Homo sapiens: one gene and its partner. The protein of the gene in region 2 purifies or fractionates together with the protein of the main gene of each other region. This does not show direct contact. Each region holds a gene or a part of one and is shown on either strand. Other genes may lie near its edges.

What was found.
Region 1: the proteins of ZBTB4 (region 2) and SIN3B purify together in Homo sapiens (affinity purification with western blotting, with the first as the bait; one study listed by BioGRID). This does not show direct contact.

What each region holds. Positions count from the first base shown.
Region 1 is NC_000019.10:16,860,398-16,863,897, reverse strand, and holds part of SIN3B (paired amphipathic helix protein Sin3b), read right to left. Parts: intron 1,547-3,500; coding exon 1,339-1,546; intron 1,247-1,338; exon of another isoform or gene 1,015-1,246; coding exon of another isoform or gene 919-1,014; exon of another isoform or gene 255-918; coding exon of another isoform or gene 219-254; coding exon 102-218; intron 1-101.
Region 2 is NC_000017.11:7,466,132-7,469,631, forward strand, and holds part of ZBTB4 (zinc finger and BTB domain-containing protein 4), read right to left. Parts: intron 1,197-3,500; 5' UTR 1,126-1,196; intron 680-1,125; 5' UTR 671-679; coding exon 1-670. UniProt on the Homo sapiens protein: Transcriptional repressor with bimodal DNA-binding specificity. Represses transcription in a methyl-CpG-dependent manner.

The DNA of each region.
Region 1 (3,500 bases), on a different chromosome or scaffold from region 2:
TCCAAACGAGACTGGGGCAGTGGAGGAGGATCAGGATGCATGTCCCATGGAGAAGGGGAACAGGCACATGCCGGGGGACCCGGCCACAGCAGCACACACACCTCGAAGCGCTCGTCCTCACAGCGGTGAAGCTGCTCCTCGTACGGTGTCTTCTTGGAGCTGACGAACGTGGAGTCCTCAGACCAGGAAGGGAAGGAGACCCAGGTGTCGTTCAGTACCTGCACCAAGAGGAAATGCCGTGAATGACGCTGCATGCCCCAGGAGCCAAGATTTACTGTTAGCCAGTGTAGAAAGTACCAAGATACATAATACCATCCTGATACATAATACCAACTGCCTTATACAAATGGGAAGGTGCATAAAGTTTTTAAGGAAAAACATGACTTTGGTCAAGTGGACACTCCCTTGGTATCCTGGGAGATTGGTTCCAGAACCACCCCTGAAGACCCAAATCCACAGATACTCAAGTCCCTGATGTCCAATGGAATCCTATTTGCATATATCCTATGCAAAATCATCTCTAGAATACTTATACCTAATGCAATGTAAATGCTGTGTAGATCATTGTTACACTGCATTCTTAAAATGTGGATTACGCTTTATTGCTGTATTGTCATTTTTTGGTTTCTCTTTCCCCACGTATTTTCAATCCATGGTTAGTTGAAACCACAGATGAGGAACTTGCAGATCCGGAGGGCCGATTTCATTTCAGACATTGGTAAATTCTCTCTGCAAAGGGTCAGACAGCAACCATCTCAGATTTTGCAGGCCATCCCAGATGAATACTCAACTCTGCCTTTGTGGTGAGAAAAGCAGCCACAGGCAATATGTAAAGGAATGGTTGTGTCTGTGTGACAGTAAAACTTTATTTACAAACACGGGCAGCGGGCCAGGGCCCGTGGGCCAGAGTTTGCTGACCCCTGCACTATATCCTGGAATCCAGCAGGTATTCTTGAACTTGGACATGCAGTAATCGTCTGTCCACGAACCCTGGAGAAGTGTCCAATGGTCAAGCTAAACAGAAACACACTGAGGTCAGTGAGCCCGGGACAGAGCAGAATCATGGCAGCAATAAACCTAAGTCAAATAACAGATGAATAAGCCGAACTCCACGTTATCCCTGGCACTCTGTGTTTTGCCAAAACTACCAGCAGGGTACAACACTGTTGTCTCTGCTCAGGTGGTTTTGCCGGGCCACATCCCAGCACCACCCATAACCCAACATTCAGGAGGGCTGAGCACACAGCATTTCATTCATAACGGGGGTATCGGGTGTTTGCTGGGGAGGGGTGGGGGATGCACCATGTCAACGAACATTTGAGCCCCAGGGAGCGCTACCTCCTTGCAGATGGCTGTCCTCCCACTGCACTTGGGCTGCTGGTAGGTTTTGGGGAGTGCCCGGTAGCTGGATCCTATGCGCTTGCAGGATGCATAATCAATTTCCCGGCTTATCCCGTCCCCGGATCTGTCGCTCATGGGTGGCGCGAAGGACAGCTCTTTTACCCCCAGGAAGGACTTGAACTGTGCAAAGAGTTCTGGAAATTTCCTTCAAAGATAAAGACACATGGTAACTGGTCATCCCCAGGGCCTTCTGAGAGGGATCTGGAGATTTTAGAATGGCTTCATGTGGACATTACAAGTTAAACAGAGTCAGAATTCAACATCATGGATGCGAATGAGAGGCGGAAGAATCCAATACACAGGAAGTCACTGCAAGTCCCGGGGTGTGTGAATGAATGGGCCTCCCACCCATCTGTCACACACCAGGTCCCTTCCTGTGCCTATTAATCCCATACTCACAGTAAGGCTTTGAAATACACCAGAAAAGATGACTTAAACTGGCAGAAGCTGGAACCCCTGATGTTCCCTGACTGGAAGAGGCCAGGCTTCAGGCCAGGGAGTGGCAAGCCACAGCCAGTCTGCACACTGCCTGTGTTTTGTTTGGTTTGGTATTTTCTTTTTAGAGATAGTGTCTTACTCTGTTGCCCAGGCTCAAGGGCAGTGGCATGATCTCAGCTTACTGCAACCTCAAACTCGTGGGCTCAAGAGATCCTCCCACCGCAGCCTCCTCAGTAGCTGGGACCACAGGCATGTGCCACCACACCCGGCTAAATTTTTTTTTTTTTTTTTTTTTGAGACAGAGTTTCACTCTTGTCGCCCAGGCTGGGGTGCAATGGCACAATCTCGGCTCACTTCAACCTCCACCTCCCGGGTTCAAGCAATTCTCCTGTCTCAGCTTTCTGAGTAGCTGGGACTACAGGCATGCACCACCATGCCCGGCTAATTTTTGTATGTTTAGTAGAGACGGGGTTTCCCCATGTTGGCCAGGCTGGTCTCAAACTCCTGACCTCCGGTGATTCACCCGCCTCGGCCTCCCAAAGTGCTGGGATTACAAGTGTGAGCCACCATGCAGGGCCAATTTAAAAATTTTTTTGTAGAGATGGGGTCTTGCTATGTTGCCCAAGCTGGTCTTGAACTCCTGGCCTCAAGTGATCCTTTCACCTCAACCTCCCAAAGTACTGGGGTGACAGGCGTGAGCCACCATGCCTAGCCATCCCATTGTAAATAAAGTTTCACTGGCCTGCAGTCACATCCACTTGTGTACGCACTGCCTGTGGCTGCCTGCACAAGAGGGGTTTGAGTCATTTCCACAAAGCCCATCTGGCCCCTCAGAGATCAAGTTTGCCTATCTCTGATCCACAGTCTTCCTCTCATGAGGGAGACTTCTCTCTGTGAACCCCTCTCTGGACACAAGCTTGAAAGTCATAATGTCATGGCTGTGGTCGACAACAGGAAGGCTTTAATGCAAATGACCCTACAATGCCACCTGGATTTCTGTTTAAAATAGTATCAGACCTGGTGGTGTGTACCTGGAATCCCAGCTACTCAGGAGGCCAAGGCGGGAAGATCACTTCAGCTCAAGAGTTTGAGACCAGCCTGGGCAACAGAGCAGGACCCCGTCTCTAAGCAGTAACATCAGATCCTACCAAAAAAGTTGCAGTTATGGCCAGGCGCAGTGGCTCATGCTTGTAATCCCAGAACTTTGGGAGGCCGAGGCGGGCGGATCACGAGGTCAGGAGATCGAGACCACGGTGAAACCCCGTCTCTACTAAAAATACAAAAAAAAAATTAGCTGGGCGTGGTGGCGGGCGCCTGTAGTCCCAGCTACTGGGAGAGGCTGAGGCAGGAGAATGGCGTGAACCCAGGAGGCAGAGGTTGCAGTGAGCCGAGATCACGCCACTGCACTCCAGCCTGGGCGACAGAGCGAGACTCCGTCTCAAAAAAAAAAAAAAAAAAAAAAGTTGCAGTTACTTTGACTGCTGGTGCCACAATCCTGCTGTGACCTAGCCACCCAGCCCACCCTCGCATAACGACGTCCCCCTCATTGATGTGGGCTCCGTCGTTCCCCGTATTTAAGAACCCTATGCCAACCCTGCTCACAAGGAAAACCCACAAGCCGATGGAAACGTAGGAAGGAAAGAGACCAACAAAAAAGCTGC
Region 2 (3,500 bases):
CAGGGGCCTGGGCCTCAGCCCTGTCACCCTCCCACTCCCCAGCTGGCCTGGGCCCGGGCCCAAAGCTGTCCTCTTCAGGCTGCGAGGTGGCCATGGGGGCTGGGGTAGGAGGTACCCAGGCATCACCTCCCTCCCCCAGGCCCTGAAGGCGGGAGATGCCCAGACGGCGCCCCAAAGCTCCAATCTCTGCTACAGCTGCCCCGTCCCCTCCACCACCAGGCAGTGCGAGCCGGGCGCTGTAGATGAAGTTGAGGACATCAGAAAACGCAGCTGCTGGGACTCCTGGCAACTCCAGGACCCGGGGTGGGGAAGAAGCAGGGGGAGAGGCTGGAGGGGGAGAGGAAGAGGAAGAGGAAGAAGAAGAAGAAGCAGAGGAGGAAGAAGAGGAAGAAGACGAGGAAGAGGAGGAGGAGGAAGAGGCAGCTGTGGTGGTGGCAGGGTTGGGTGCGGCGCCCCCAGTAGCTGGTGGAAGGGGTAGTGGGGCTGAAGTGAGCAGGGCCTCTCTGAAGAAGGGACTTGAAGCAGCCAGGACGCTGCGGTGAGCAGGGAACTTGGTGTCTCCGGCTATGAGGGTGACGTCACAGAAGAGGCCACGGAGCCGCTGTTCATTGAGCTGGCGCAGGACGGCGGGGGCATGGGACGGGTCCGTCACCTCTGCAGGGGGGGGCATGGTGCCAGCCTAGACAGTGGGAGAAGAGGCCGGGTAGAGTCTCAGAGGCTGGGCAGAGGGCAGGGGCTTCTAAAATCAGGCAGAGAGAGGATCAGGAGCTGCTGGTCAGAAACTAGTGGAAGGCTGAATCACTTCTGGTCACAGAAGTCAGGGGTTGGCCCTTAGCCACCCAAGTCTGGCCAGCATCCAAGACCAGTATGTCTAACTCACTTCTGAGGCTGGAAGAGGCCAGAGATACCTCAGGTCATGGTGAAGGTCAAGGGGTCATGACCTCTGAAGTCACAGACTAGAGATGTAAGTGAGGCAAATCTCTCTCATGGGAAGGAGGAGGAAGCTCCACAACTCCTGATAGCCATTTCACAGAACTCCCCAGCCTAGACAAAATGGCCGCCCCTGCTGGCCTGCTGCCTTGGGTCTACTTTGTCCTCACTGTAGGCCTCTGGGTACCTTCTCACCTGAGAGCACAGCCAACATGGAGTGGGGCGGGGGGTGGCTCAGCGAGTCCCTTCTGCTGGGCCTCTTCCTTCTGCGGAGAAACAGAAATTATGTCAGGGGAACCTAGAGGAGGAGCAGAAGAGGGTCCTCAAGGAGGGAAGTGAGAGGAAAAGCCCCCAGGAAGTGGGGAGGGGTGCAGTACTGTGGCCAGAGAGGACACCTGGGTGAGCCCAGACCCCTCCCCGGAGCCTCTGCCAGGTTATTTGTTTAGCTGTGTCCAGTCAAACCTGGGAGGTCACGCAGATTATTGCAGAGCCTTGTTCTGCGGGCCCAGAGAAGTACAGTGACAAGATAATTTGCATATTCCCAATTCACCTCCAAACAATATAGTAGCACAGGTCCAGTCCATAGGTTCAGGGAAGCCTGTCACAGCACTCTCAAGTCCCTTTGGCCCAATCTCCAGGGCTCAGAGGAAGTCAAAGATTTGCATGTTGTCATTTATCACAATGGTCTCATTTACATATCAAAATAATTTGTGAGTTTTTAAAAATTGGACCTAAGCTGGTAGATATTCAAATTAGGAGAGGACATCCTCACATCCTTCCAGCCCCATAAATCTTAGAAGGGGGTTTCTGGCGCAGCTGCCAGGCAACCATTGAAGACCACTGACCCATACACAACTGCCAGCTTGCTCCAGCCTCTGGAGGGCACTGGAAAGGCCACAAGACCAGGAGGCCTGGTCCCACGCCTTACTCAGAGACCTGATGCCCTAGGGATCTGGACTTAAAAAGCGGCAGAATCACAACTCCTACCTCACCTCTTGCTGGGAGACTCGTCCAGAGGGAAGAGCAAGGCCAGGCGCGGGGGCTCACGCCCGTAATCCCAGCAGTTTGGGAGGCCAAGAGGGGTGGATCACCTGAGGTCAGGAGTTCAAGACCAGCCTGACCAACATGGTGAAACCCACATCTCTACTAAAAATACAAAAAATTAGCCGGGCGTGGTGGCACGTGCCTGTAATCCCAGCTACTTGGGAGGCTGAGGCAGGAGAATCACTTGAACCTGGGAGCTGGAGGTTGCAGTGAGACGAGGTCACGCCACTGCACTCCAGCCTGGGCAACAAGAGCAAAACTCCGTCTCAAAAAAAAACCCCCCAAAAAACAAAGGGAAGAGCAGACAACTGAAACGCAAGCTCAGGCAGTCAGCAGCAGAGAAAGCACCGCGCAGCCACCTTCCCCTGCAGGCACCATCAGGGCCTTGAAGACTCTTTTCAGTTGAAGGTTTGAGTTCAAAAGCCAGACTTATCCAAAGTCACACAGCGCTGGTAATGACAGGCGGCACCTATTTAGAGATCCAGGCCCGCAGACTTGAGAGCAGAGCTCTCCGGACCCTCTCCTCTGCCCTCCACAAAGCCTGGGAGCTGTCACCCATCTTTGAGGGTGTCCTTCCGTATGCCGTGGGCCACGTGTCTTCAGAGGTGTCCGGCATCAGGAGTTCCTCATACAATTCCCATCCCCTGAAAAATCTTCTTTCCCATTTATCACTCATACTGTCTGGACTCAAAGGCCTTTTCCCCACATATACCCCATTTCACATCCCCCAAAATATTTTCCTGACACCTCTCCTGGATGGGAAGAAGGAAGATGGTAAACAGGGATGATATTCCAAAGTTTTAACAACCCTGTCTGCCAGGGACTGATGAGGTTCTGGGTCAAGTGTTGCCCTGTCAGTTGGTGAATTTCAGGTAGGTCGTAGGTCAGGCATCCTGCGGAAGGGGCCTCACTGCATTCACAGGCTGATGCCCAGGCCTCCTACTCGCCTCCATGAGAACCACTGGCTCACCGGGACCCCAAGAGTCAGTGTTTTATTTGGATTACCTCATTTGTTCCTTATCACTACCCTGAAAGGTAGCAGTTAGCTTTCCCTCCTTTTAAATTTTATTTATTTGTTTTGAGATGGAGTCTCGCTCTGCGCCCAGACTGGAATGCAGTGGTGCAATCTCAGCTCACTGCAACCCCCGCCTCCTAGGTTCAAGCGATTCTCCAGCCTCAGCTTCTTGAGTAGCTGGGATTACAGGCGTCCGCCGCCATGCCTGGCTAATTTTTTGTATTTTTAGTAGAGACAGGGTTTCACCGTGTTAGCCAGGGTAATCTTGATCTCCTGACCTTGTGACCTGCCTACCTAGGCCTCCCAAAGTGCTGGGATTATGGGCGTGAGCCTCCATGCCTGGCCACTTTCCCTCTTTAAGGCCGGGCACGGTGGCTCATGCCCGTAATCCCAGCACTTTGGGAGGCCAAGGCGGGCGGATCATCTGAGGTCAGGAGTTCTAGACCAGCCTGGCCAATGTGGCGATCTCTACTAAAAATAATAATAAAAAAAAAATTAGCCAGGCATGGTG